4 linked regions of the Homo sapiens genome follow. The protein of the gene in region 3 interacts with the protein of the main gene of each other region in a pairwise test. Each region holds a gene or a part of one and is shown on either strand. Other genes may lie near its edges. The genes, in order: SHOX, CTAG1A, HEMK1 and POU2AF1.

What was found.
Region 1: the proteins of HEMK1 (region 3) and SHOX interact in binary tests that used the Homo sapiens proteins (3 or more experiments, as listed by UniProt).
Region 2: the proteins of HEMK1 (region 3) and CTAG1A interact in binary tests that used the Homo sapiens proteins (3 or more experiments, as listed by UniProt).
Region 4: the proteins of HEMK1 (region 3) and POU2AF1 interact in binary tests that used the Homo sapiens proteins (3 or more experiments, as listed by UniProt).

Annotation. Positions count from the first base shown.
Region 1 is NC_000023.11:626,529-633,801, forward strand, and holds the start of SHOX (short stature homeobox protein), read left to right. Parts: upstream 1-4,262; 5' UTR 4,263-4,369; coding exon 4,370-4,646; intron 4,647-7,273. UniProt on the Homo sapiens protein: Controls fundamental aspects of growth and development.
Region 2 is NC_000023.11:154,580,250-154,587,324, reverse strand, and holds CTAG1A (cancer/testis antigen 1), read right to left. Parts: upstream 2,193-7,075; 5' UTR 2,119-2,192; coding exon 1,850-2,118; intron 1,174-1,849; coding exon 1,039-1,173; intron 800-1,038; coding exon 661-799; 3' UTR 509-660; downstream 1-508.
Region 3 is NC_000003.12:50,564,552-50,572,529, reverse strand, and holds the start of HEMK1 (MTRF1L release factor glutamine methyltransferase), read right to left. Parts: upstream 3,009-7,978; 5' UTR 2,956-3,008; exon of another isoform or gene 1,729-2,955; intron 1,628-1,728; exon of another isoform or gene 1,600-1,627; 5' UTR 1,426-1,599; coding exon 1,198-1,425; intron 821-1,197; coding exon 729-820; intron 454-728; exon of another isoform or gene 416-453; coding exon 322-415; intron 1-321. UniProt on the Homo sapiens protein: N5-glutamine methyltransferase responsible for the methylation of the glutamine residue in the universally conserved GGQ motif of the mitochondrial translation release factors MTRF1, MTRF1L, MRPL58/ICT1 and MTRFR.
Region 4 is NC_000011.10:111,376,264-111,384,033, reverse strand, and holds the start of POU2AF1 (POU domain class 2-associating factor 1), read left to right. Parts: upstream 1-4,758; 5' UTR 4,759-4,856; coding exon 4,857-4,872; intron 4,873-6,181; exon of another isoform or gene 6,182-6,184; coding exon of another isoform or gene 6,185-6,260; intron 6,261-7,770. UniProt on the Homo sapiens protein: Transcriptional coactivator that specifically associates with either POU2F1/OCT1 or POU2F2/OCT2. It boosts the POU2F1/OCT1 mediated promoter activity and to a lesser extent, that of POU2F2/OCT2. It recognizes the POU domains of POU2F1/OCT1 and POU2F2/OCT2.

The sequences.
Region 1 (7,273 bases), on a different chromosome or scaffold from region 3:
TGTCTCTACCTCTGTCTCTCTCTCTCCTCTTTTTCTCTGTCTCTGTCTGTATCTCTGTCTGTCTCTGTCTCTCTTTCTCTCCTCTCTCTGTATCTCTGTCTCTGTCTCTCTTTCTCTCCTCTCTCTCTTTTTCTCTGTCTCTGTATCTCTGTCTATCTCTGTCTCTCTTTCTCTCTCTCATCTCTCTCTGTCTCTTTTTCTCTGTCTCTCTCTGTGTCTCTACCTCTGTCTCTCTTTCTCTCCTCTCTTTTTCTCTGTCTCTGTATCTCTATCTCTGTCTCTCTTTCTCTCTCTCCTCTCTCTCTTTTTCTGTCTCTGTCTCTCTGTCTGTCTCTGTCTCTCTTTGTCTCTCTCCTCTCTGTCTCTTTTTCTCTGTCTCTCTCTGTGTCTCTACCTGTGTCTCTCTTTCCTCTCTCTTTTTCTCTCTCTGTCTGTATCTCTGTCTACCTCTGTCTCTCTCTCTCTCCTCTCTCTCTGTCTCTTTTTCTCTGTCTTTCTGTCTCTCTATCTCTGTGACTCTTTCCCTCTCTCCTCTCTCTCTCTTTTTCTCTCTCTCCCTGTCTCAGGGAAGCATCAGTAAAACCTCCAACAAGCACCCCCTTGTACACAGCCCAGGCCAAGAGAGGTGCAGACCCTGCTTTCTGCCTGCAGCCGCCTGCTGTAAAATGTCAATGCAAAACATTTCATACAGTCCACCCACTCTGCAGACTGGAGCTGCGGCCTCTCGGACAGCGTCTTGAATTGGCAACGAAAAACGTGTGGGGTAGAAAAAGCTCTCGTCTGGATTTCTAACATGTTATCAAGCACTCAAACGCTGGGTGTTTCCTGCCTGTCTTTAAAGGGAAGGGCAGGGAGAGAACGTAAAAGCTCTGGTCAGAGAAGGGAAAGGTCTTTAGGTGAGAGGGGTGAGGCCGCCTCCGTGCTCATCCCACAGGAAGAGTTGGAGTTTTACAGAAAGATGAGATCTCTTTCGCGTAGCCAGAAACTCTTAGGAAAAGCGGGGTGTTGGAAAGGCAGAAAGTGTGCCATGAATCGGACGTGCGTGATTTCAAAGCCACTTGTCTGCAGTGAGAATTACAATTGGGGCTTCAGTTGAAAAAGGGCCTTTGCTTTTTCTCCGAGGCCGAGGGGCCTTGAATAGCCACACAGCTCCTGACTGGTGTCCCCATGCTCATTCCTGGAGGCTCGGACACCCTGGTAGAGCGGAGTTTCCTACTAGACAAAGGGGTCCAGATTGCGGCCCAAGAAGGAACCTCAGGTCGGGGAAAGCCTGGGCCTCACGGGACCCCCCAGGAAAGCCTGGTCCTTGGGGTTGGAGAAGACAGCTGAGCTGGGAGGACGGAGGGTTTTCGGTAGGGAGACAGTGAGCAGCTGTGAGAGGTTTACGGCGCAGTCCCTGGGGACCCAGTTTCCCAGCAGAGGCAGAGATGGGGAGGCCTTTAGAAGCAGAAAAGTTACCCGGCCTCTGAGGACCCAGAAAGTTGCTCTAAGCCAGAGACCCTTCTCCGAATCTCCCTCTCTGTCTGTCTCTGCCTCTCTCCCTCTTTCTCTTCCCCCTCCCTGTCTCCCTCTCTGTGTCTCTGCCTCTCTTTGTCTCTCTCTGTATCTCTATCTGTGTCTCTCTTTTTCTCTCTCCATCTCTCTGTCTCTCCGTTTCTCTCTTTCTCTCTCCCTCTCTCTCCCTGTCCGTGTCGCTCTTTCTCTCTCTCCATCTCCCAGTCTCTCCCTTTCTCTCTCTCCATCTCTCCCTGTCTCTCTCTTTCTCTGTCTCCATCTCTTTCTCTGTCTCTCCTTGTCTCTCTCTTTCTCTCTCTCCATCTCTCTCTGTCTCTCCCTGTCTGTTTCTCTCTCTCCATCTGTCTGTCTCTCCCTTTCTCTCTCTCTGTCTCTCCCTCTCTCTCCCTGTCTGTGTCTCTCTTTCTCTCTCTCCATCTCTCTCTGTCTCTCCCTGTGTTTCTCTCTCTCCATCTCTCTCTGTCTCTCCCTGTCTGTTTCTCTCTCTCCATCTGTCTGTCTCTCTCTTTCTCTCTCTATCTCTCCCTCTCTCTCCCTGTCTGTGTCTCTCTTTCTCTCTCTCCATCTCTCTCTGTCTCTCCCTGTGTTTCTCTCTCTCCATCTCTCTCTGTCTCTCCCTGTCTGTTTCTCTCTCTCCATCTGTCTGTGTCTCTCTTTCTCTCTCTCCATCTCTCTCTGTCTCTCCCTGTCTGTTTCTCTCTCTCTATCTGTCTGTCTCTCTCTTTTTCTCTCTCTATCTCTCCCTCTCTCTCCCTGTCTGTGTCTCTCTTTCTCTCTCTCCATCTCTCTCTGTCTCTCCCTGTGTTTCTCTCTCTCCATCTCTCTCTGTCTCTCCCTGTGTGTTTCTCTATCTCCATCTCTCTGTCTCTCCCTTTCTCTCTCTCTGTCTCTCCCTCTCTCTCCCTGTCTGTGTCTCTCTTTCTCTCTCTCCATCTCTCTCTGTCTCTCCCTGTGTGTTTCTCTCTCTCCATCTCTCTGTCTCTCCCTTTCTCTCTCTCTGTCTCTCCCTCTCTCTCCCTGTCTGTGTCTCTCTTTCTCTCTCTCCATCTCTCTCTGTCTCTCCCTGTGTTTCTCTCTCTCCATCTCTCTCTGTCTCTCCCTGTCTGTTTCTCTCTCTCCATCTGTCTGTGTCTCTCTTTCTCTCTCTCTATCTCTCCCTCTCTCTCCCTGTCTGTGTCTCTCTTTCTCTCTCTCCATCTCTCTCTGTCTCTCCCTGTGTTTCTCTCTCTCCATCTCTCTCCGTCTCTCCCTGTCTGTCTCTTTCTCTGTCTCCATCTCTCTCTGTCTCTCCTTGACTCTCTTTCTCTCTGTCTCCATGTCTCTGTCTCTCCCTGTCTGTGTCTCTCTTTCTCTCTCTCCATCTCTCTCCGTCTTTCCCCCTCTGTCTCTTTCTCTGTCTCCATCCCTCTGTCTCTCCCTTTCTCTCTGTCTTTCCTTGTCTCTCTCTTTCTCTCTCTCTCTCCATCTCTCTCTCTCCCTGTCTCTCTCTCTCCATCTCCCCGTCTCTCCGTTTCTCTCTCTGCCTCTCCCTGTCTGTCTCTCTCTTTCTGTGTCTTACACACACCCCAACCCACCGTCACTCATGTCCCCCCACTGCTGTGCCATCTCACACAAGTTCACAGCTCAGCTGTCATCCTGGGTCCCCAGGCCCCGCCGGGGAGGAAGATGCGCCGTGGGGTTACGGGAGGAAGGGGACTCCGGGCCTCCTGGTGCCCCACTTTATTTGCAGAAGGTCCTTGGCAGGAACCGTGACGCGTTTGGTTTCCAGGACTTGGAAAACGAATTTCAGGTCGCGATGGCGAGCACCGGCTTCCCCTGAAGCACATTCAATAGCGAGAGGCGGGAGGGAGCGAGCAGGAGCATCCCACCATGAAAACCAAAAACACAAGTATTTTTTTCACCCGGTAAATACCCCAGACGCCAGGGTGACAGCGCGGCGCTAAGGGAGGAGGCCTCGCGCCGGGGTCCGCCGGGATCTGGCGCGGGCGGAAAGAATATAGATCTTTACGAACCGGATCTCCCGGGGACCTGGGCTTCTTTCTGCGGGCGCTGGAGACCCGGGAGGCGGCCCCGGGGATCCTCGGCCTCCGCCGCCGCCGCCTCCCAAGCGCCCGCGTCCCGGTTTGGGGACACCCGGCCCCTTCTTCTCACTTTCGGGGATTCTCCAGCCGCGTTCCATCTCACCAACTCTCCATCCAAGGGCGCGCCGCCACCAACTTGGAGCTCATCTTCTCCCAAGATCGTGCGTCCCCGGGGCGCCCGGATCCCCCCCTCGCCATCTCAACCCCGGCGCGACCCGGGCGCTTCCTGGAAAGATCCAGGCGCCGGGCTCTGCGCTCCTCCCGGGAGCGAGGGCGGCCGGACGACTGGGACCCTCCTCTCTCCAGCCGTGAACTCCTTGTCTCTCTGTCTCTCTCTGCAGGAAAACTGGAGTTTGCTTTTCCTCCGGCCACGGAGAGAACGCGGGTAACCTGTGTGGGGGGCTCGGGCGCCTGCGCCCCCCTCCTGCGCGCGCGCTCTCCCTTCCAAAAATGGGATCTTTCCCCCTTCGCACCAAGGTGTACGGACGCCAAACAGTGATGAAATGAGAAGAAAGCCAATTGCCGGCCTGGGGGGTGGGGGAGACACAGCGTCTCTGCGTGCGTCCGCCGCGGAGCCCGGAGACCAGTAATTGCACCAGACAGGCAGCGCATGGGGGGCTGGGCGAGGTCGCCGCGTATAAATAGTGAGATTTCCAATGGAAAGGCGTAAATAACAGCGCTGGTGATCCACCCGCGCGCACGGGCCGTCCTCTCCGCGCGGGGAGACGCGCGCATCCACCAGCCCCGGCTGCTCGCCAGCCCCGGCCCCAGCCATGGAAGAGCTCACGGCTTTTGTATCCAAGTCTTTTGACCAGAAAAGCAAGGACGGTAACGGCGGAGGCGGAGGCGGCGGAGGTAAGAAGGATTCCATTACGTACCGGGAAGTTTTGGAGAGCGGACTGGCGCGCTCCCGGGAGCTGGGGACGTCGGATTCCAGCCTCCAGGACATCACGGAGGGCGGCGGCCACTGCCCGGTGCATTTGTTCAAGGACCACGTAGACAATGACAAGGAGAAACTGAAAGAATTCGGCACCGCGAGAGTGGCAGAAGGTAAGTTCCTTTGCGCTCCGGCTCCAGGGGGGCCCTCCTGGGGTTCGGCGCCTCCTCGCCACGGAGTCGGCCCCGCGCGCCCCTCGCTGTGCACATTTGCAGCTCCCGTCTCGCCAGGGTAAGGCCCGGGCCGTCAGGCTTTGCCTAAGAAAGGAAGGAAGGCAGGAGTGGACCCGACCGGAGACGCGGGTGGTGGGTAGCGGGGTGCGGGGGGACCCAGGGAGGGTCGCAGCGGGGGCCGCGCGCGTGGGCACCGACACGGGAAGGTCCCGGGCTGGGGTGGATCCGGGTGGCTGTGCCTGAAGCCGTAGGGCCTGAGATGTCTTTTTCATTTTCTTTTTCTTTCCTTTCCTTTTTTTGTTTGTTTGTTTGTTTGAGACAGAGTCTCGCTCTGTCCCCCAGGCTGGAGTGCAGTGGTGCGATCTCGGCTCACTGCAACCTCTGCCTCCTGGGTTCAAGCGATTCTCCTGCCTCAGCCTCCCCAGTAGCTGGGATTACAGGCATGCACCACCACGCCTGGCTAATTTTTGTGCTTTTAGTAAAGACGGGGATTCACCATGTTGGCCAGGCTGGTCTCGAACTCCTGACCTCAGGTGATCCACCCGCCTCGGCCTCCCAAAGTGCTGGGATGACAGGCGTGAGGCACCGCGCCCGGCCTGGGTCCTGACGGCTTAGGATGTGTGTTTCTGTCTCTGCCTGTCTGCCTTGTATTTACGGTCACCCAGACGCACAGAGGAGCCGTCTCCACGCGCCTTCCCAGCGCTCAGCGCCTGCCGGGCCCCCGGAGATCACGGGAAGACTCGAGGCTGCGTGGTAGGAGACGGGAAGGCCCCGGGTCAGCTCGGTTCTGTTTCCTTTAAGGAACCCTTCATTATTATTTCATTGTTTTCCTTTGAACGTCGAGGCTTGATCTTGGCGAAAGCTGTTGGGTCCATAAAAACCACTCCCGTGAGCGGAGGTGGCCGGGATCTGGATGGGGCGCGAGGGGCCCCGGGGAAGCTGGCGGCTTCGCGGGCGCGTCCTAAGTCAAGGTTGTCAGAGCGCAGCCGGTTGTGCGCGGCCCGGGGGAGCTCCCCTCTGGCCCTTCCTCCTGAGACCTCAGTGGTGGGTCGTCCCGTGGTGGAAATCGGGGAGTAAGAGGCTCAGAGAGAGGGGCTGGCCCCGGGGATCTCTGTGCACACACGACAACTGGGCGGCATACATCTTAAGAATAAAATGGGCTGGCTGTGTCGGGGCACAGCTGGAGACGGCTATGGACGCCTGTTATGTTTTCATTACAAAGACGCAGAGAATCTAGCCTCGGCTTTTGCTGATTCGCAGAGTTGAGGTGCGAGGGTGAATGCCCCAAAGGTAATTCTTCCTAAGACTCTGGGGCTACCTGCTCTCCGGGGCCCTGCATTTGGGGTGTGGAGTGGCCCCGGGAAATAGCCCTTGTATTCGTAGGAGGCACCAGGCAGCTTCCCAAGGCCCTGACTTTGTCGAAGCAGAAAGCTGTGGCTACGGTTTACAAAGCAGTCCCCGGTTTCTGACCGTCTAAGAGGCAGGAGCCCAGCCTGCCTTTGACAGTGAGAGGAGTTCCTCCCTACACACTGCTGCGGGCACCCGGCACTGTAATTCATACACAGAGAGTTGGCCTTCCTGGACGCAAGGCTGGGAGCCGCTTGAGGGCCTGCGTGTAATTTAAGAGGGTTCGCAGCGCCCGGCGGCCGCTTCTGTGGGGTTGCTTTTTGGTTGTCCTTCGCAGACACCGTTTTGCTCCTCTGAACTCTCTCTTCTCCCCCTGGCCGTGGACCCGGGAGAGCAAAGTGTCCTCCAGACCTTTCGAAAGTGAGAGGAAAATAAAGACCAGGCCAAAGACCCAGGGCCACAGGAGAGGAGACAGAGAGTCCCCGTTACATTTTCCCCTTGGCTGGGTGCAGAAAGACCCCCGGGCCAGGACTGCCACCCAGGCTACTATTTATTCATCAGATCCAAGTTAAATCGAGGTTGGAGGGCAGGGGAGAGTCTGAGGTTACCGTGGAAGCCTGGAGTTTTTGGGAACAGCGTGTCCCCGCCGAGCCTGGGAGCCCGTGGGTTCTGCAAAGCCTGCGGGTGTTTGAGGACTTTGAAGACCAGTTTGTCAGTTGGGCTCAATTCCTGGGGTTCAGACTTAGAGAAATGAAGGAGGGAGAGCTGGGGTCGTCTCCAGGAAACGATTCACTTGGGGGGAAGGAATGGAGTGTTCTTGCAGGCACGTGTCTGATAGGAGGTGAAACAGAATGTGAAATCCACGTTGGAGTAAGCGTCCAGCGCTGAATGTAGCTCGGGGTGGGGTGGGAGGGCCCTGGTGTGGATCGTGGAAGGAAGAAAGACAGAACAGGGTGCTAGTATTTACCCCGTTCCCTGTAGACACCCTGGATTTGTCAGCTTTGCAAGCTTCTTGGTTGCAGCGGCCTTGCCTGTGCCCCTTTGAGACTGTTTCCAGACTAAACTTCCAAATGTCAGCCCCTTACCCTTGACAGCAAGGGACATCTCATTAGGGCATCGCGTGCTTCTCATCTGTGCTCAGCAGGCCCGAGATAGGAACAGAGGGGCGTTGGAGATGCCACTTCCACCAGCCCTGGGTTGAAGGGGAGCGAGGGAGACAC
Region 2 (7,075 bases), on a different chromosome or scaffold from region 3:
ATCTCGCTACATTGCCCAGGGTGGCCTCCAACTGCAGGTCTCAAGCCATCCTCCCGCTTCAAGCCTCCCACAGTGCTGGAAATACAGGTGTGGGCCACCATGCCCAACCCATATCACATGCTTAACAGTGATATGATAATGCTGGTTCTATGCATCTATTCAAGTACGTTTTCAAAGAATTTTTCCCAAGTAAAAAAGCTCATATGTTCAATGAAAACAATTTGGGAAAAAATTTAATGCTGACCTGGAAAAACATTATATATGCTACTGTCATATATTTAACATATAAATGCAAGTATATTGAGGAAAATATTCTAAAATGTCCACAGTAGTTAATGCTGAATGGCGGGACCCAGTGGCTTTTCATTTTCCCCCATTTCCCAAATTGCCTCCCGTTACCTTGTGCTACTTCAATCTGTGAATCCCAGAGCCTCCCCTGCAACCCGAGGACAAGGGCATGCAAGTCCGAAGGTGCCTTCGCTCGCCGAAAAGAGACTCAGACACGGAATCGTAGCTCAGTTTTATTTTCTACAGAAACAAACATGTAAGCCGTCCTCCTCCAGCGACAAACAATCAGGCCCCCACAATGAACTGGCCACTCGTGCTGGGACCATTCCCTAGGGGAGGAGGCATGACCTAGGAAGGGGCGCCAGGCTGGGCTTAGCGCCTCTGCCCTGAGGGAGGCTGAGCCAAAAACACGGGCAGAAAGCACTGCGTGATCCACATCAACAGGGAAAGCTGCTGGAGACAGGAGCTGATGGAGAGCTGCAGTTGGCGGTGGTCTGCAGCAGTCAGTCGGCTAAATGTGAGGGGCAGAGAACATCACGTTAAAGGCGACACCTCTGCACCCATCTCCCTGGGCTCCCTCGGGTGGCGGCGGGCCTGGTGTACCAGGTCTCTGTTCTGAGACCCTGTGCTGGGGTGTTCCCAGGTTTCTAGCAGCCTGACCGTGGGGTGTAGGCGGATCCCAGCCCCCACCCTGCCACGCTGTGACCGCCACCCACCCAGGCCCCATCCCTGTCCTGGTCCTGAACTGACATAGTCAGTATGTTGCCGGACACAGTGAACTCCTTCAGAAGCACCCCTGGCACGGGAAGCGGTGGGGCATCCTGGGCCAGGCTCCTGCGGGCCAGCTCTGCTTCCATGGGTGTCGCGAAAGGCATGGCGAGGTAGCTGGTGGGGGCCCAGTTAAGGCATCCTCTCCTAGGACTTGGCCTGTGGCTCCGGCCTGCTGCTTACCCCAGGCCAGCTTCCCCCTCCCCCACTCCCCCACCCCTCCCCCCTACCCCGGATTGCCCAGCCCATCCCCCCCAGGCTGTCTCCCCAGGCACTGGCCCAGTAGCACACCCCACCCAGCTGTCTTGGTTCCCCACTTTCCTTTGCTGCACCCCAAGCTGACTCCTCCATGCCCTTACAAGACCCCTCCCCACCCTGCCCCCTGTGGCATCACCCGGCCCCCTCCTCATCACTCGACCCTCCATCCCAACCACCTCCCGCCACCCGCTCCCATCTTGCCCCCTTCCCCCCACCTCCTGATCCCCTCCTACACCTGGGTCCCCCTATCTCCTGGCCCCTGCTCCCCTCCCCGCATGACCCGGTGCCCCTCACCCAATCACCCAGCCCCTCTCCCCCACCCCCACCCCCTCTACCTCCCAGCCCTTACCTCCTCCCCTCCTCGCAGCTGGCCTCTCATATCCCCACCTCCCAACCCCCACCCCCACCCCCACCCAACCACTTACTCGCATCTCCCCCGCCTCCTCCCCCACCTGGCCCTGCCCTCCCCATCTCCCGGCCCCCACCTCGCCACCAGAACTGTCAGAACAGAACAGAACAGAACAGAACAGAATACAACTCAAGCAGGCGGCTCTCCGGCCCCCTGGCCCCGCATCTGCAGCATCCATTCAGCCCTGAAGCCGCGCCGCCATGCGGACCCCGCGGGGCGCCTCCTCCCGGCCCCGAGGCCCTTGCTGCCCCTGCGCCCCGGGGACCTCTGCCGCCCGTGGCACCCGCCTCTCCTGGGCCGCCAGCATTGCCCCCTGGGCCATCAGGAATGCCAGGGCCTCCTGGGCCATCAGCATCGCCCGTCGAACCCCCTGTGCCCCGGCCTTCGGCCTGCATGGCTCCGGAGCCTCTGCCCGGCTCTCAGAGAGAAGGTCAGGGCCCACGAGGATGCGGAGGCAGAGAGGCTGCAGGAAGTTCCGCCCCCTGGCGTGAGATGGGCAGCCCGGGATCCTCAGGGCGCCTGCGCACAGGGGCCCTACTTCCGGCCCTGGGAGACCCCGAGTGAGCCCCGGAGCACGTGACCGGTTCTCACCAACCCCGCCCCTCCCCAAGAGAGCCCGGGCCGGAAGGTGGCCGCAATGCCAGCTTGGACCCCTCACCCCTGAGCAGCCGGCTGTCCGCCGGACCCCTGTCCCGGGAGCCCTGCAGGGAGTCAGGCACTGCGGGGCCCAGCCTGTCCCATCCCCCGGGTCTCCCTCACATCGAGGAGCAAGACGGGCCTGGGAACACGGGGCCGGGACTGTGCGGCCATCGTCCCGGACCCTGCCTGCCCTGTCCGTCCTTGGGGGAGCGCCCAGGACAGACCCCGGGGGGCAGGCCTCTAACTGGGCTCAGCAGCCTCCGTCCCTGTCCTGGTCGCCCAGCTGGTGGGGTAGCTGGAACTGCATGTCTGGTGGGCGTGGCCTCGCGCCAGCCAAGGTCTCCCAGGCGCCAGGTCCAGCCAAGGTGGACGGGAGGGCCCAGCGGGACCCGGGGCCGGATCTCACTCCTGGGTTCAACGGGTTCTGTCCCTGTCCTAGTCGCCCCGCCTGGTGGGGGAGCTGGAGCTGCGTGTGGGGTGGGTTGCGGGTGGCCTCCCACCAGCCAGGGGCTCCCGGGCTCTAGGCCTGGCCCAGGTGGACAGGCGGGACCTGCTGGACCTGAGGCTGGGTCGGGCCTGGCTCCTGGGTTCGGCAGTATCAGTCCCTGCCCTGGTCGCTCTTGCCTGGTAGGGAGCTGGGAGGTGACCCTGTGTCTGCTCAGTGGTGATCTATTTGTGTGTCTGGAAGGGGGTCAAATCCACGGGACAGGTACCTCTAGAGGCATGCAGGGGTGAGGGCGGCACGGCCCCGGGAGCTGAATGTCTGTGCCAGGCACACCTGTAGCAACAGGAGGTGACCAGACAGGGCCTAGCCCTGAGGAAGGGGGAGGTACTGAAATCCAAACCACTCTCCCCCACCTTCCAAATCCAGGAATCAGCAGCCTCTGCACCTGGGAAAAGCATATTGGCACTCATGTGGAAACTAAAAACGTTGATCTTTTGGAGGTAGAGCAGAATGATGGTTACCAGACGCTGGGAAAGGTGGGGAGGGTGGGGAGGTTAATGGGGACAAACATATAGTTGCATAGAAGGATTAAGTTCTAGTGTTTGATAGCACCGTAGAGGGACTATAGGTAATTATTTATTGTATATTTCAAAATAGCTAAAAGATAGGAAATGTTCCCCAAAAAAAGAAATGATAAATGCTTGAGGTGGTGGAGATCCTAAATACCCCGACTTGATCATTACATCGTGTGTGCGTGTGCATGTATCAGAATATCACATGTATCCCATAAATATGCAGAGTTATCATACATCAGTTAAAAATGTTTTTACTTACAGAAAAGAAAAATTCACCCAAGCTCTTGCGTGTACCTCCAGTTTATTATTTTCACTGCTGTATTTCATTACATATATTTCATTAAATGATGAATTTTAAAAACCAGAGAACACAACTTGTTAACACCTGGAATAGCTGAAAATCAGACATAACCCGGTTAGTGATTGCCATCCTTCCTGTCGTCCTCTGCTCAGTCTCCCCATTCTCAGACAGAGGCAGGCTAAAGTTCTTACCTTCAACAGGTCAGGGAAGGGAGAGTAAAGTGCATGTGACCCTGTCTTAGGAAGCAGGAAGACAGAGGGAGGGTCTCCGGGTCCCCATTATTTTCCCGGCCTATTATCCTCAGATCAAGTCAAGAAAGGAAGTCCTAACTGACTGAGAGATTCCTGGAGATACTGCCACTGTCCTGGAAGTCTCAGCCAGCCACTGGACCGGAAATCTCCATCAATATTTCAGCCAGAGCAACGTCTGCCACTAGATGGCATCAAACTCCAGCCGGGAGCAGGACAGATTTGGATGGTCCAGCGGGCTTGCCTCATTCATTTCATTAACCCCACAGTAACACATTTTCACATTGTATGCGATTGGATTTCTTGGAAACTACCTATTACATTACGGCAGAGTTTTATAGTCCTCTAATTTATCCATTCTGCTGATGATGGGCAGGCATTTGGATAGTTTCCAGCCCTTGGCTATGAACATGCTTGTACAGGTCTCTTGAAGCACATGTCCAAGTTTTTTTTTGGAATTGCTGTATCACAGCCAATACATATCTCGAAATTTACTAGATAATGCCATGTTTTCCCAAGTGGTTTGAGCCAATTTTCGCTTCCACCATAATGTGTCAGCGTACATACACATAGCTCAACATTCTCATCAATATTGACGGTACTAATCCGTTCTCGCATTGCTATAAAGGACTACCTAAGACTGAGTAATTTATAAAGAAAAGAGGTTTAATTGACTCACAGTTCTGCAGGCTCTACAGGAAGCATGGCTGGGGAGGCCTCAGGAAAGTTACAATCATAGCGGAAGGCAAAGAGGAAGGAGGCACATCTTATATGGCCAGAGAAGGAGAAAGAGAAAGTGAAGGGGGAGGTGCTATACACTTTTAAACAACCAGATCTTGTGAGAGCTCAACATCACGAGAATAGCAAGGGGGAAATCGACCCCCATGATCCAATCGCCTCCCACCAGTCCCCTCCTCCAACACTAGGGATTACAATTCAACATGAGATTTGGGTGGGGACACAAATCCAAATCATATCATTCCACCCCTGCCCCCTCCCAAATCTCATGTACTTCTCACATTGCAAAATACAATAATCTCCTCTCAACAGTCCCCCAAGTCTTAACCCATTTCAGCATTAACTCAAAAATCCACAGTCCAAAGTCTCAACTGAGACAAGGCAAGTCCCTTCTGCCTATGAGCCTGTAAAATCTAAAACAAGTTAGCTACTTCCAAGATAAAATTGAGGTACAGGCATTGGGTAAATACTCCCTTTCCAAAAGGGGGACATCGGCCAAAACAAAGGGGCTACAGGCCCCATGCAAGTCCAAAACCCAACAGGACAGTCATTAATTCTTTTTTTTTTTTTTTCCACTACAAAATAATTTATTCGAACACACAGCTACAGCGCGAGACTCCTATGTACAAGCACATTGACGCTCCTGACTACCCTCAACTAGAGGACCCTTTTCTTCCCCCTTGCCTTGCAGACCTCTTCTATCGAATCTTTCATGTACTGGATCTCCTCGGCCAGGGAATCCGCCCTCTCTTGCAGAGCCTCGTTCTTCTTTTCCACCGCTTTGCACTCACCAGTGAGGACCTCCTGCTCCACCCTCTTCTTCTGGCGATACCTAGTTCCTGCTGTTTGGTTTTGCTCCATTTTTTTTTCAGCTTCTTATCCAGTTTCTCACCCTTTACTTGTGCTGCTACCATCTTCTCTCCAGGAGGGTCATAAGGTTTGGGGCAGGCAGAGCCACAGAGGACACCTGGAGATGGCGGGCTCCTACTCGGAGAGCCCCTGGAGGTAGAGGGAGAGCCCAGATAGGACTCTGGGCTCATACAGATGCCACTATCATTATCTGAGGGGGCGTCTTCCTCCTTTGTGCAGTGAGGGATCTTGGAAATGTAAGCAGTGGAGTCTGGCTTCCTAGCTCCTTCAAAGATATCCACTTCACTGCCCAGCTCTAGACTAAAGGAATAATCTGGAGTGGAGGACTGGACCCCTGGGGAAAGGGGAAGAGGTTGCAAGAAGGTGAAGGGGGCAACCTGGTCGGGTTAAACTTTCTGGGAGATGGCAAATCGGGTTCACCATCTGGGGGGGGCTCCTTAATAGTCTCCTGGACTGGGGGGGCTCCTTAATAGTCTCCTGGACTAGGGGGGCAAAGAGATCACACGAGTCATCCAACGTGGCCAGAAGCTCGTCTGGCATGGTTTCCAGGTCATCTATACCCAACAGGGCATCAAAGTCGAACTCCTTCAGATCAGTTTTCTCCAACATCCAATCTGTCCCAAAGAAAGCATCCTCCTTGCCATCGTTGGAGGCACTGACCAACCCATCCACAGCCAGCCACTCGGAGGAGTCTGCCTTAGCCTTGTCGCTGGAGAACCCATGAGGTTTGAAGTGCTTGGCCACCTCCAGGTAGTCATCTAAGAGACCTAGGCTTTCTTCAGTCCCCAAACCTGACTGGTCAAGGGGGGACATCAAGCCCCCACCAACACCTCGCTGCTCAGGAAGCTCATCTCGGTCATGGTGCAGTGCTTTGCTGGAATCAACGAATGTGCTTAATTCGAAGGTGTCTTTGTCGGTTACAGCAATGCTGCTGCTGAATGCTGTGAGAAGTGCTACGGCTTAAGCCGCCGGTGGATGCCACTGCAGAGCCTGGTGCTGCTGCCACCGCTGCAAAGGCCAAGGCTGCCACAGGCACTGCTGCCCCTAAAACGCCATGGAGGCCATGGACCCTGCAGGCGGGGAGGAGGGAAGGTGCGCACGTGCGGAGGAAACTACATCTGTGGGCGGGCGGAGCAGAAAATCGTCATTAATTCTTAAAGCTCCAAAATAATCTCCTTTGGCTCCATGTCTTACATCCAGGCCACACTGAGGCAAGGGGTGGGCTCCTGAGGCCTTGGGCAGCTCCGCTCCTGTGGCTCTGCAGGGTACAGCCCCCTCGGCTGCTTTCCTGGGCTGGTATTGAATGTCTGCAGCTTTTCCAGGAGTATAATGCGAGTTGTCAGTGGATCTATGATTCGGGGGTCTTGAGGATGGTGGCCCCCTTCTCACAGCTCCACTAGGCAGTGCCCCAGTGGGGACTCCAACCCCAGATTTCCCTTCTGCACTACGCTAGTAGAGGTTCCCCAGGAGGGCTCCGCCCCTGCAGCAGACTTCTGCCTGGACATTCAGGCGTTTCCATACATCCTCTGAATCTAG
Region 3 (7,978 bases):
GGGTTGGGTGAGCCATGGGATGGCTCCCAGAGAAATGGCAGAACAGGCTAAGTACTTGGGCAGCACTATTTGAGGCACTCTGGGCCATTGCCAGACCTAGAGGCTGGGTTGATAGCTTGGAACATAACAGTCAAGGGGACCAACAGGAATCCTCTGTCCTCTGGGCTCTGCCAACACAGTCAGAGAGGAAATACATGTCTAGAAAGGCACTGTCCCTGAAGTCATGGGGCCCCAGTGCCCCCTGGAGGAAGCCTGGGGTAAGACTGGTGCCCTGAACTCCACCATCATCCTGATCCTGCCTTGCCCTGGTGGCACACCTACCTCTGTTTCTGGCCGAGGAATAAACACTGGGGGCACCATCCTTAGGCTGAGCCCCTGGAAGTCCCACTCTCCAAGGATGTACTGCACCGGCATCCTGCAGAGGGGGCAGCTGGGTGGTCATCAGGGACAGAGCTAGGACCAACAGGACCATGCCTGGGTTGAGATACCACTTGTGGCCAAAGGTATCAGGCAAGACCATGTCTCCAGGGCCTTGGGACTCCTGAGGCAAAACCCTCCCTCCCTCCCTTCTTCCTATTCAGTACCCCGGCCCCACTCTTGCCACTCCTGCACCCCAACACCTCCCTAGTCCTTGGACATTCTCCTCCTCCCTGAACTTGGTGGGGATAGGGGAGGCTGGACTGCTGCTCCCTGAACACATCCTTCAGGTCTGATCCATGGGTGCTCACCTCTGCAATCGACGGCTACTCAGCTCCCGGATACACTGTAGTTGCTGAGAGGTCAAGGGCTGGGTCCAAAGTGCCGGCCTCAGGCTCTGAAACTGTCCCCACAGAGAATATAAGTGGCTGGCTCACTGGGCCCAAGGCCCCCAACCCAGGTGTCTTATGTGGATAATGCCTGCCCAGCACTGGTCTGGAGGCCCAACCCTCTCATCATCTGGGCCCAGAGGGGGCAGCATCCTGCCTAAGGTTACACAGCTAACACCAGGCTTCCAGGTGTCTATCCCAGAACACTTAGGCAGAGATATATTCATTCATCCAACAAACTGTTACAGTGTGTGCCAGGCGCTAAGACGTTCCTTCAGAAAAATCCCATCAGTCTCAGCTAAGCACTCTTAGTGAACAGAAAACCTGGATATCCCTTCCCCAAGTCCTCCCTCCTCCCTCTTCCTGTCCTCTTGACAACACTAAACTTAACTGTTTTGGCTCCAAGGACATGAGCCACGATGTACTCACTGGATTCCCGGGCCTCAGGGATACCCCTCTTCTCAAAGACCCCAGTCCAGTGGCTGACCAGTTCTATGGCACTGGATAACCCAGCCAGAGGTGGTTGGGGTTGCCATGAGCTGAAGGCCCAGCCCCGGGTACTTCCCCTCCTCCCTGGGCCAGACAGGAGGGCCCACAGCATTCGGCCCCAAAGCTCCATGTCTCAGGGAAAGGTTCTCCAGAGTGCTTCCAGGTTCCCAAGTCTGCTTTATGATGTCAGCTGCTGAGGTGAGTGCTGAGAGTGGCCCCTGGACCCAGCTGGGTGGAGATGGAGAGGTCACAAGCTCTGGTGCCCCAAAATGGCTCTGGTCCTCAGATATAGTTGGTTGCCACCCTGGGAGTGAGAGGAACCAGGAAAGCAGGTGAGCCTTGTATGACACCCCCCCTTCTACCAATACATTGCCTGAGAATAGTTGTGCTCTTGCTCTGACACCCCCTTGACTCCATTTAGAGCCTTACCCACCTATTTGATCATTCTTGTCTTGGCCACTTACGTTTTCTTCACATTTTTAGCTGGAGTGGGCTGAGCCCATAGCTCAGTCTCTGCTAATAAACGGGTTGGTGGTAGGTTAGGGCACATATGTGGGGACAGGACAGATCTGTGTCTAACCTAGCGTGTGTGATCTTGAGCAAGTCATTATTTCTGATTTTCACTTTCTTAATCCATAAGATGGGGGAAAATCACACCAAACCCATGGCAAGCAATGCATTAGTCTATGAATATCCAAGGCCTGGGAGGCAGCTCAACACACAGCAGGGACCAGATGTTACATGATCTTAACTGATGTTACAAGAGGCAGATGATTGCCTTTAATTGGGAGCTTTGAATCTGACATTGTGTGTGTACTGTCATGGATGTACATGCTGAAAATTTCCTCCTAATTTAACCTATAATCCGGGACATCAGCGTAAACCACCAACTAAAAAATTTACAATTGTATATTTAAAGAGGTCACAAGCAAGTTTAACTGAAGGTTTAAAATCAGCGGTCCCCTTTGCTTCCAGATAAAAGTCCAAACTAGCGTTTATTAAGCACCTGCTAAGTGCCACATCTTCAGATACAAGTAGGGTCAGAGAAGGGAAGCGACTTGCCCAGCGTCACTCAGGTAGAAACTGTCCCAGGCAAGCTGGGCACGGTGGCTCACGCCTGTAATCCCAGCACTCTGGGAGGCCGAGGTGGGCGGATCACGAGGTCAGGAGTTCGAGACCAGCCTGGCCAGCATGGTGAAACCCTGTCTCTACTAAAAATACAAAAAATTGGCCGGGCATACTGACGCGCACCTGTAGTCCCAGCTACTTGGGAGGCTGAGGCAGGAGAACTGCTTGAACCCAGTTCAAGCAGGCGGAAGTTGCAGCGAGCCGCGGTCATGCCACTGCACTCCAGCCTGGGTGCCAGAGAGAGACTCCGTCTCAAAAAAAAGAAAAAAAAGACTGTCCCAGGCAAGACACGAACCCGAGTCCACCAGACTCCAGAAGCGGCTCTTGCACCAGTGCGCCGTCCCAGGAGCCAAGGCCCGAAGTCAGAAGTGTAAACTCCCTCACAGCTACGCACCGCATTGTTAACGACCCAGATGAGGCCCCCTCTCTCCAACCCTGTTTCCCCATCTGCACTATGGAGAATGGTACCGGCCAGGTCTCCAGGCGGTTGCAGTCGAAACACCCCGTTCCGATCCCCACCTCCCATGCATACCTGCCTGAAAGGCTGCCCCACCCACCCACCAGCCGGAGAAGCTGCCCCGAACTGGACGCCCGGACGTGCGTGGCCCGTCGCGCGCTCCCTCGGACGCCCCGCTTCCGGGGTCGGCGCCTTTAAGAAAAGGCTCGGGCGGACGCCGTAGCCCAGCTTCAGTGTTCCTATCGCTGGTGGGTTCCTCCCAGGAGACCCCTGCGGATGGGTGGGGAGGCTGTGAATTCCACTCCCTCTACGCTCGCAGGCCTGCATACAGGAAAGTGCGGGGATGTGTGTGGGGTTGACCCTTGGGGGCCCGGACCTGCCGGTCTTCCTTAAAATCACAGCAGGGATTTGGCTCCAGCCCAAGGGGATTGCTCCGAGCTGGCGTTTAGGAACCAGGCCGGGAGGTGTGTGGGCGGAGCCCAGTAGCCTGCCGGAAAGGGGGCGTGTCACCAGAGGGCCCGGGTGTTCCGGCGGGGACCAGATGTCCGGGGGCGTGGTCTATCTTAGCCTGGGGGCCGGGTGGAGCTGTGCATGGGCGGGTTCCAGTGTTGAAGGCTGGTCCAACTTTGGGGTCCAGTCCCAGTGTCGTGACCCTACCGAGGTCAGTGGCCCGAGCCCACCAGGGGGTCGGCCGACTGGCGGCCAGACCCCAGGGGCCGCTCTTTTACCGATTCGAATCTTGACTCTATTGGCAACTCCTCCAGGTGTTGGGACCTCTGGACCTCAGTTGCGCCTTCTATAAAATACTCGGCAGCGTCTCGCAAAGTGTGTCTTGTCAACATCTCCCCACCAGAAAGTACTGTTAACTAGAACACTGTTAACTACTTTTTTTTTCTTTTTTTCTTTTTTTTTTTTTTTTTTTTTGAGACGGAGTTTTGCTCTTGTTGCGCAGGCTGAAGTACAATGGCGCGATCTCTGCTCACTGCAACCTCGGCCTCCGGGTTCAAGCCATTCTCCTGCCTCAGCCTCCCAAGTAGCTGGGATTACAGGCGTGAGCCAACACGACCGGCTAATTCTGTATTTTTAATAGAGACAGGGTTTCACCATGTTGGTCAGGCTGGTCTCGAACTCCTGACTTCAGGTGATCCATCGCCTCGGCCTCTCAAAGTGCTGGGATTACAGGAGTGAGCCACCACGCCCGGCCTTAAACTGCTATTAAACATGCTGTTTCCCTGCCTCCTTCCCAGACCGGGAGACACAGGGGCGTTTGCATTTGTACCAGGCTACCCGGTGACTCCCATAAACTACTTTGAAAACCGGCGGATCAGGAGTATCTGAGGGCTCCTTCCCTGAGCTGATCATGCCGTGGATGGAAGCTATTGTGAGGGTATATGTAGACTTGCCTGGGTCGGGGTGCCCAATAATAAATCCACCCCACTCTCAACTTCTGTAGACGAAGATTCCCCATCTTCGTCTAGAACCCTCACACCAGAGGACCCGTCTGAGTAGAAAGCCAAGGTTCAGGAAGGGAAAAGCAGTTTCTTCAAGGTCACAAAGTCAGCCAGAGTTCAGTGCAGGCCCAAGGACTCCCAGTCCAGTGCTCTCCCCAAGTCTCCTCTGTACATCCATCCGCGTTTTGGGGGCTTGAGTCTGTCCTGGCACGGGTAGCTGGCAGGGGTCCCGAGTTCTGGCCCGGAAGGGCCTGGCCACCCACTGTCCTCCGCCCAACTTCGGCGCAGGCCACGGGGTGAGGGTAGTCTCTAAAAACTGCGACCAGGTTCTAGGCTCCCTCTGGGGGTGGAGCCAGACCCGAGCGACAAGCGAACGGTCCAATTCTGGGCGGGCTCTAGGCCCGACAGCCAATCGGAGGCCGGGGGCGCGGAGCGTGCAGGGAGGCAAGGCGCTGTAGCTTCGGGGATCCCCCGAGGCTGCTCGGCCCGGCCCCACCTCCGCCGTGGGTCCCGGCCCTACCCACCCTAGCTCAGGCCGGCAGAGCCAGCGCTCGCGGATGCGGCTGGTGCGCAGTAGCGGGCCTGGCCAGCGGCTCGGGGCTTGCAGGGAGGGCGGATCTCGGGTCGGACCCGCAGCCCCAGACGCCGGGCTTGGGGGTTCCCCCCGCCCCGGCCTCCTGCCAGTCACTACCACCCCTAGCCTCTCCAACTGAGCTCGGCGCCGGGAGAGGATTAAGTAAGTGCTGAGGTCACTGCTCCTGTGCAAGAAGGGAGGCATCACAGGGTCGCGGAGGCGGGCATGGGGATTGGGGCAGGGAGGACTGAGAGACCTGGTGGAGAACAGCATGCGGGTTCTCGAAGGTCGCGGTGCCGACCCCTTTTACCCCGGTTTCCTTCCCTTCCCCTTTGGACCCTGAGGCAGGCCTGGAAAGTGGTCAGTAGGGCCTCTTCTCTCCTTTGGGAGGCGATGTTAACAGAGCCCCAGGGCACGAGTTAAGGGTTTGGCCCAAGGTCACGCCCGGGATCAGTTGCAAAGCCAAGAAAAGAACCCGGGACTTCCTATGTGCCCAGATGTGCCCAGCCTAGCTGGAGGGAGAAGGCAAAGAGGGATGAGCCTTTCTACCCCATAACCCTCTGCCAGCCTTGCCCCTTCCTCAGGGACCATCAGAGGTGTTTACACATCTCACACACGCCCATGCATCTGCACAGGGAGGCAACCCCACTAATGCCCATGAACCAGCACAGGGGGATGTATGCACCCACGAGCTAGGTATCCCTCCTCTCCCTAGGCCGTCCCATCTGCAGCTTGGCTGGCACCTCTTCCCACCCCACCTTAACCAGGGCCCTCTGCACTGGGCAAATCTCTCACCCTCTGCTTCCAGGGGAGGAGGGTAAAGGAAGAGAAGGCACCCACACTGGGAGCTCCATTCCTGCCTCGCCTTTCTCCTTGACCCTAGCAGCCCCTCTATTGTTGGTGGGTGGGGAGGGCAGTCCAATGTCCCCGAGAGCCTGCGGAGAAGCCCCGCCAGAGAACCAGAGCCTCTCTCTCCTTCTTGTCTTCTGGTCTTTCCACATCAGCCTCCACCCACACTCCAAGCATAGTCTGGACCATACAGTGGACTGGGTCCAGGGGCTCCCTTGGCTCCCCTTTGTGACTGGGTTGGCCATGGGGAGAAAATCTAACATGTAGTGGATGCTTACTGTGGATGGGGGTTGTGCTGAGCTAAGTCTTTCTTCGACACCTGTTTGTTCTGCCATTTCTGTAACCCCATGACCCTGTGGGGATGTTCTCAATATCCCCACCTTAGACTCAGGAAAACGGAGACACAGAGAGGTGGAGTGACTTTCTAGGGATCACTAGTTAAGCAGCTGAGCTAGGTTTCAAAGACAGGCCTGTCTGACTCTTGGGCAAGTGTTTCCCTCCAGGAAAGGAAAAAGCTGTGGTATTTTTTCCCCCAAGCAGGATGAGGGATGTGGGAGGCAGGGAATGAGGAGGTGGATATGGGGAGGTGGGGGATATGGGGACGCAGGTTGAGGGGAGTTTTTGATCAGGGGAGGGAGACTTTTTCTTTCAAACATCCCCGCTGCCTTTCATATCTTCCAGGTTTGATCACTATGATCATCTCACCCACAGACAGAGGATGCAGGGCTTCATTTTTGTTCCCAAAAACAGGGGCACCGTAGATACGTAAAGTATGTGTCCTAATGTCTCCTGAACTTACCCTCATTCTTGCCCTCAAACCTTTACCTCCCCAGTGCTTTCAGAACCTAGAGAGACTTCATCTCACTACTGAGCCCCTGTCCTTAGCCTCATGTTTCTTATTCTTTCCTTTCTAGCACCCAGGAAGGCAGGGGGCTCCCTTTATCCAAGGAGGTGGCTGTGCAGGTGGCCACCACAGGTGGCAGGAACCACAGGCTGGGGCACTCCGGAGTCAGGAGTGAGTGGGCAGGTTGACTGGCATCAGGCAGCCTCTCAGCCAGGGCCCTCTCCGCATCAGCATGAACTCCAGGACCGCATCTGCTAGGGGCTGGTTCAGCAGCCGCCCACCCACCTCTGAGTCTGACCTGGAACCTGCCACAGATGGGCCAGCCTCCGAGACCACTACCCTCAGCCCAGAGGCCACCACCTTTAATGACACCAGAATCCCTGATGCAGCTGGTGGCACGGCCGGCGTGGGTACCATGCTTCTGTCCTTTGGGATCATCACGGTGATAGGCCTGGCTGTGGCCTTGGTGAGAGCTGGGGTAGGCTGGGGGAGGATAATCAGTGTTTAGATTTATAGAGAACCTAATCAATCAGAAGACAATCTGGTTGTTGTTATTGTTGTTTTTGAGACAGAGTCTTGCTCTGTCATGCAGGCTGGAGTGCAATGGCTTGATCTCAGCTCACTGCAACCTCCACCTCTGGGGCTTAATCGAGTCTCCTGCCTCAGCCTCCCAAGTAGCTGGGATTACAGGTGTGAGCTGCCACGCCCGGCTAATTTTTGTATTTTTAGTAGAGATGGGGTTTCGCTATGTTAGCCAGGCTGGTCTTGAACTCCTGGCCTCAAGTGATCTGCCCCCGTTGGCCTCCCAAAGTGCTGGGATTACAGACATGAGCCTCTGTGCCCGCCAACAATCTATTAATGAGAGTGCAGTCCTCCTCTCCTGCAGAGATTTGTCCACTGGGGCCCAGAGACCAGAGAGGCTACGCTTCCAACTGGAAACAACAGAAAAGGTTCTTGGGAATACATGGTGTCTTGAGCTGGGTCATGAAGGCCACATAGTAGTCAAGGAGTTCCAAGTGGAGAGTCCTGATGGGCAAAAGTTTGGAGGCAGACAGAGGGTTCTGTGAGCAGCCAGCAGGACAGTTAGGGCAGTGGATGTGGGGTTGCAATAGAAGAAAAGGCTTAAAGGTGGTTGATGTGGACCGTGGGCTGCAGAGTCTGGGTAAGATGATCTGTGCATGGGAGGCTGTTGGCAGTGAACATTCATTTATTCACTTGGCAATTATTTACTGAGTACCTGCCCTGGACCAGGCCTTTGGAACCCAATAGAGGCTGGGAAGACAAGGTCCTGCCCTGTGGTTCTTACAGGGAGTGGGAAACAGATAAAAACCAAGGGTTCCAAGGGAAGCCTGCAGGGACTGACTTGGGGACTCAAGCAGG
Region 4 (7,770 bases), on a different chromosome or scaffold from region 3:
ACTAACCAACTAGAAAATTATATAAAAAACAAGATGCCATTCACAATATCAACAGAAACTATAACATAATTGAGAATTAGCTTATTTAAGAATATACTGTACTTCTGCGGAGAAAATTTAAAAACTGTAATAATAAAAAACATGGAATATGATCTGAAGAGATGGAGAGCTGTCCCATGCTCAGCTGGACCAAATTAATTTTATAATGATATTACTCTTGCTTGAAGTAATCTACAAATTCAATGAAAACCAATAAAAATTTCAGTGTTTTTTTTGGGGGGGGTGCTGGGGAGTCTCTCTCTGTCACCCAGGCTGGAGTGCAGTGGTGCGATCTCGGCTCACTGCAACCTCCATCTCCTGAGTTCAAGCTATTCTCCCACCTCAGCCTTCTATGTAGCTGGGATTACAGGTGCCCACCATCATGCCCAGCTGATTTTTGTATTTTTAGTGGAGACAGGGTTTCGCCATGTTGGCCAGGCTGGTCTCAAACTCCTGACCTCAGGTGATCCATCTGCCTCGGCCTCCCAAAGTGCTAGAATTACAGGCATGAGCCACCATGCTGGCTGGAATTTTTTGAGGAACTTGATAGACTTATCTGAAAAATTTAAGCTGTACTATAATAAATAACAATAAAAACTAAGGTACAAGAACAACGAGACCAGTAAAATAAAATAGGTCCATGTACCTAAAGTATGTATTTCTATTCAAAAAAAGCACACTATGAATAAAGTTAGCAGATGACAAGAGTGAAGAAATTTGTGTTGAGTAAAACTGAAAATATCTAGAATTGTACATCTAGAACACAGATGTGCAAAGAATTTCTGCTGATCAACAAGAAAAAGGGCAATCCTGGTACAGAAATTGGCAAAGGAATGAACAGACATTTTAAACTGGCAAGAACAAATACTACACTTGATCTTAGCCAAAAGGCCAAGAGGTGATTGAAGAGGTATTTTGAAGAGAAACTCCATAGGGTTAACATGCATATGAAGACATGCTTCCATTTATTAGTATTATAATGTAAAATAAACCACTACACTATCACTACACTATTACACTAAAACACACACACACACACACACACACACACTACACTGTTGCTATCACTACATGTACCACACTGGCAACATTTAGACCTTGGATAATGTCAGGTTTGGTGGTAAAGTGGAAATATGAGAAGCTGGTGGAAAAATGAACTGCTGGTGGAAGTCTTGGACAGATTAGTATTCAGTCAGATTAAATATACACCTATTCTTTGGCCCAGTAATTCCACCTCTGGGCATATAACCTCAATGAAATTTTCACATGCCTCTGAAAAAAGATGCATATAAGAATGTTCATCAATGCTTTGTTTGTGGAAGAGGAAGTTGGAGACAATCTGCTTAAGTGAAATGCAGCGCTCACACACCATAGAATACTTTGCAGGTGTTAAAAGTGGTGCACAGAATGTCTACATCAATGTGGATAGATCTTACAACACTGTGCTGAATTAAAAAATAAGAAACAGCGTGAAATGTGTAATATAACATCACCTACATAAATTAAAAATCTATACATGCCAAACAATACAGATCTTATAAGAACAGGCACAAATGTCTACAAATAAAAGCTTCAGCATCAACCACTGAAAAGAGTTGCCCTGATTGGAATGGTGGGTGGGTGATGGGGGTATGAGGGGACAGGAAAAAGAATAGACATGGAAAATGAGGGGGAAAGTAGATGAATGAATAAATAAATTACTGAGCAAAATAAGATAGGGGCTTTTCATAAATCAAAAATGATGAGAATGAAGATGATTAAAGGCTAAATGAAAAGAAAAGATTAAGACTTGGCAGAGGTAATGACATGTAATAAGCACTCTGTAAATATTTATTAAATGATGGAAGAAATGAAGTCGATGGTGAATCTTTTTGCAAAGCTAAAATTTATTTCACAATATGAATCAGTGCGCTTTAATAAATTATTTTAGAAGTTTTGATGTTTGTATATCAGATTCTTTAAAAATGTGAGCACACCTGTATTTGGAGTCATCTGGACCATGTTCACAGATTTTTTCTTCTTTTCTTCCACTTCTTGAGACATTGCATAAACATAGTCGCCTCTTTTGAACTATGCCATGCAGTTTGACTTTTGATTCTAAGTCACAGAAAATGTTTTCCTGGAAAATATTTGCTGTTTCGATCAAGTCTTGATTCCAAAGCATCTGCCTGTATGTGGTCACTGATATGCAGGGTATTTGCTGGAAGAAATGAGCTGGAATCTGCCTCATGAGCTGTGAGGCCATAAGAGGTGATGGGTTTATCGCTGGCCATGATGGTGGGCTTGCCCACTGACATTTTGTTTTTCTGCCACTGTACAAGATCTGATTTGTCAGAGTAGCTCTGGGTCTCACCTTTTCCTTCCCTCTTTCCAGAGGACAGAAATTTATTCCGGGGGATATAGCTTCTGTTGATCTGCTTCAGGTTTTAATAATAATGATCCTATATTACTACTAACAAACATGGCTGACACTTGGCATTTACTGCTTTCAACTTAATAAATATCTTTTATTTTAATGATTTAGAGCTCTGGCTCTAGTCAGATGAACTTGGGTCTGGCACCAGCCTATAACCTGATAGCTTGGTGACATTGGACAGATGAAATTCCCTAAGCATTTGTTTGTTTCTCTGAACAATACAGGTAGACGTTTCCTTGCAGCGTTGTTGTGGTGACTAGATTAGGTAATGTATTTAAGGCTTAACATGGAGCCTCTTGCACAGTAAGTGGTTATATTATTACTTTGTGGAAATCATCATGCTAGGCCTGTGGGGAGAAACTGAGATGAATAAGAAAAAGTTCTGAATTTCACGGACTTGGAGAGAATAAGACATGACCAAAAGAGACAAAAGACAGACCCGTGGGAGAGAGGACCAGCGAGGCCACATATCCTCCTACGAACCTGTGAGACACTCACAGAACTGGTTCTTCATTTTATAGATGAGGAAACTGAGGCTAGAAGAGTTATGTGACTTGTTGAAGGGGACACAGTGAGTGAGTGTCAGAGCCTTCATGGGAACCCACGTCTCCTGTGACTGAGGCAGGCCTGAGGGATGTGCCTCTGTTTCTCATGGAAACTCCTTGGCGCAGCCCAAGGCCTTGAGATGCTGCCCCCTGCCAGGCCAGGGTGTGGGCTGCCAGCCACCACAGCATGGGGGCCTCCACTGTCCTGAACTTCAGAGGCTTTGCGGGGAGGGCTTATAGGCAGCCAGGAGACAGCCTTCTCTGGCTTTTAAGTGAATCATTTATAAAATGTTGACAGCATTTCTCCTCAAGACCTGCCCTCAAATCAGCAACCGATTAGAGACAGTAATTCATAACTTTATCAGATGAATTTTTATTGGGGGTCACTATGCTCCAGGTCTTGTGTGGGGCACTGGAGAGGCAAAGATGAAACCTCCTTGAGAAACTGTCAGAGTCATGTGACAATTCACCATCACATAATGAACAAAGTGCTCTAAGATCTGAGAAGACGAACAAGTATTCTCTGGGCTGGGGGTTTGTCCTTCCGGCAAGAGAGGACGGCAAGGTCAAAGGCAGGGAATTGCATGGGTGTTTGGTGGTGCTTAGAGGGCACTGGGACCAGTGGTAGGAGGGCAGTTGGTGGTGAGGCTGGAAAGGAAGGCAACGGCTCGATTGTGGGAGGCCTTCTAGGCCTCCAGCTCTGTGGCTGAAGGGAGAAGGTGAATGCTTTGTAGGCTAGGGGATAGCATGATCAGGTCTAGGTGGTGCAAGATGGCTCTGAGGCAGTATGGATGGCAGAGCAGCAAGGCCCCACACCTGCTCTAGGGGGTGTGCCAAGGGGTCTTGACCCCAAACTGACTGAGTCCCTGGAGCCTGAGCATGTGGACCTCAGATATGCAGTGGCAGAAGGCTTCCAAACTGTGAAGGAACCGGTAGCCAACACCATCTACACTTCCAGATGGTGAGCCCATGACTTACTTAAAGAAGCTTCCTGTTATCAGTGGGTGGGCACTCGCAAAGAGGCTCTGTTCATCTTGTGCCTACAAGCCCAGATCCAGTCAAAGAGCACGGGCATGTTCTCCTTCCTTCCTTGAGGGTTGGCCTCTTTTTCCGTGGGCATAGCCGACATCAGAGCCAGCGCCCCCATATTTCAGCATGATTAAGCCTTGCCATTTTGGGGGTGGCTGGGGGCGAGGGGAGGGGCTACTGTGTTTCAAAATGGAATAAACAGAAAAGCAATATTGAAAGAATGAGGAGGTTGTTTACTGAGGCTTGAAGAGATGACAGGTGTTTCCTCCCAGTTGAGAACCAGTGACCCCTGGGAATCGCATTTCCCGCTGAGCAGGCGCCCATGGCGGGCTGAGTCCTGCCCATGCCCTGGTGGCCTGGAAGCCTGCATGGGCGCCGTGCAAAGATCAACGTTTTCCAGAGGAGCTTTTGGGCTCATCACTGGCCTGGGGAGGGCTTGACACGGGGTTCCCACAGCTTGCCCCACACCACCTTCACACCCACACACAGCAGGTCCCCGCGGGGCCGGTGCAGGCTGTGGCTGCCCGCGCTGCGCTGTTGCTCTGTCCCAGCTGGCTAGCTCCGAGTGTGGAGCGCTCTGGGCCGGGGCCGCTGGGGCGCGCACAGTGGGGTGACAGGCGGCCTGGCTGCAGAAACGTTGCACCGGTGCCTGAGGTGGGAGGATGTGATGACGCGGCCCACGCAGCGGGAACCCAGGCCTTTAAAAAGCCCAGGAAACAGCCTCAGCTCAAGCGGTGGCTCCACTGGAGGAAAACACACCCCGGTCTCACATTAAAGAAGCCAAACTGTCGGCTTCAAAGAGAAAAGGCAACATCCTGTCACAGGCCATGCTCTGGCAAAAACGTAAGTGGTTTGGCTGTGGCTGTCAGACCCAAGCGAGTGCCAGCGGGGCAGGGCGATCACAGCTTGGTCTGGAATTGGGGAGCTGGTGGTGGAGGTGATGGGGCCACGGGGGGAGGGGGTCTGGGTTCCAAGCCCCGGAGCAGGGAGGGGGGAGGTGGGCGGGATGGAGCCTGGTGGAGAAACCAGCCTGTCAGAGGTGATGCTGATTTTCCAGGCTGGAGGGGAACGAACTAGTGTTCCAAGGTGGGACGGCTCAGGGTACCTCCGCTTCTGTGCATGAATCACTGTGGTGAAGAAAGGGCAGTTTATGATTCACACAACAAAAGCCAGATGTGGGATGGGTTTGGGGTTGGGAGGGAAAAGCCATGCAGTTCTTTACAGGAGGGGCTTTATTTCCATAAGCAGTGGCTCTTCAGCCTTCTGTTGAATTCCCTGGGCCTGTTTCTAGCTGAGTGACTTAGCTTTCTGCCAGGTGTGACTTGTCCCTGTGGATACCCTGGGAGGAGTGGAGATCTGGCTCGGTGAAGCGTGTCCTCACTTGCTCCACTGTCTTGCCTTTCGTCATTCTTTTTCCCCTTCTGTGACAAGGCTTGTCCATCCCACTGCAAAGGATGCAGTGGGTTTATCTTTGGCCTTGATTTTTATCCCCGGAGTTGGATGAAACAATTGTGAACTTTATTTTCCTTTATGTGGACCAAACAGCGACTTACCTTACTAATAACTGAAATAATACAGATTATTTACAACATTCTTTTCACGAGGTAAACAGCGTCAACTCATCAGCTTCTGAGAGTTGAACCTTATTGGGGCTAGTTCTATACTTCCTCAAGCAAGAAGAATGACCAAAAATTGCTCTGTCTTTCTCTTAAAGATTCTTGGTTCCTTAAAATTCGTTTTAATTAATTTTAGTATGCTGTGCCTCAAGCAAGCTTAATATAAGAGAATCTAGATTTACAGAAGAAGATATATTAGGGAATGTTTTTATTTTATGGAAAGATACTTGATTGGATCCACTAAAGTTCGGAAAATATAACTTCATTGATTAAAATGTGACACTGTCATCACCAATTTATTGTTTGCTTTATGTCTTATGTAAATTTCTCTGGAATTAAGCTGATTAACCAGTAACACAGAAGAGTGATTTCAAAATTTCTCAGGTTGTGAAGACCCACCATTGTTTGATATCAAAAGGTCAATTTTTTAAAAAAATAAAGAGAAATGAGCTTTAATTTGGGTTTGAGAGTTATGGACTCCTTCCAAGATAACTAGGAATATTCAAGAATTGTTGGCACGCCACTCTTCCCAACAGGCGATGGAGCAGCGGCAGCCTATCCTTTCTGGGACAATGGCAGCTGACCCTGTTGTGAGTGCTGTGTGGATGAGAGCAGGTGGGCATTCATCTTTTTACTGGGGGCCCCTAAGCATCTGTGTGCCCTTTCACTCAGGGCTGAATCATTTGATTTTTGTGTGAGCCCCTGGAAGGAGTTTTGCCTCAGCTCCTACCTTCTATGAGCAAGCCACTTTCCTTTTTCTCAATCCTTAGGTTTTTTGTATGTTAAGTGGGGGTAAAAATCATATCCACACTGAGGATCTATCCTTAGTAAGTGAGGTGCCACCGAAGTCATGTTCATTGCTCTGTCTGCATCAGCCTCTGAGATATGAGTTGCTTCCCTGCATTCACCATCTGCCATATTCTCCCCTCTTGGTTCTGTAGTACATTTTTTCATTTCTAATTCCTTCTAAGAGATGAACAGACTTTTTTTGTTTGTTTGTTTGTTTTTTGAGACAGAGTGTTGCTCTGTTGCCCAGGCTGGAGTGCAGTGGCGCGATCTCGGCTCACTGCAACCTCTGCCTCCTGGGTTCAAGTGATTCTCTCGCCTCACCCTCCCTAGTAGCTGGGACTACAGGTGCCCGCCACCACACCCAGCTGTTTTTTTTTTTTTTGTATTTTTAGTAGAGATGGTGTTTTACTATGTTGTTCAGCCTGGTCTCGAACTCCTGGACTCAAGTGATCCACCCGCTTTGACCTCCCAAACAGGTGTGAGTCACTGCACCTGTCCCCCAAATTTTTTAAAGGGGATGCTGGAGGGCATGCTTCCTGCTCACACCCTGGAGACCAGTCAGATAGATCAAAACTCCATTGTAAGGGAGACCACATTGTAAGCTCATCAATGGAATAACTGGGGTGAATGTTTCCACATGTTCAGATGAACACAAATCAAAATTATCTTGAATTGTCCTTTAAGCCTTAAAGGAAAAGTAGGAGAGACCCTGGGCTCTGGACCCACCCCCTTAGCCTGAACCCAAGTATGTGGTATAGAGGGCACCTGGGTGACTAAACCGTGTGGGAAAATCAGTAAAAACAGGGCAGCATGTCAGCCCACTTAGAGTCACCCGATGGAAGGGCAGGGTTTGAAATCAGACACCAAGAGTGCTGAAAGGGCACTTTCTTTTTTCAGAAAACACCCTCGAGGCATGAGCTGAAATGACTGTACTATGGGGTTCTGGAAAGGGTTAAGAAAACATTCACTTTGTGAATGTTACCTCCTCCCTACCTAGCCCATGACCCTAGTTTGTGGACTAAATGTGAACCCTGGCTTTTGGTTAAGATTAGAGCATAAAGTGACAAAGCCCAGAACTGCTGGCACAGAGAAGTAGAAATCTTCAAGCCCCAACCAATGGATTTGAGATTTGCTTGATGGGCCAATTGGATGAAGAAGTCACTCCATCTGTAGATTCTCTCCCTGGGTTCTGGACTTGGACCTGCTGGTCAGGTGCACATGTGAAGAATTACCATCCCTCCCCAGCTAGTAACAGTGTAGTGGAAATAGCAGGAACCTTGGAGGGAGACAGGTCTGAAAGTTGCCTGTGCAACTTAGTTCTTTCTTTGTGAGAAGG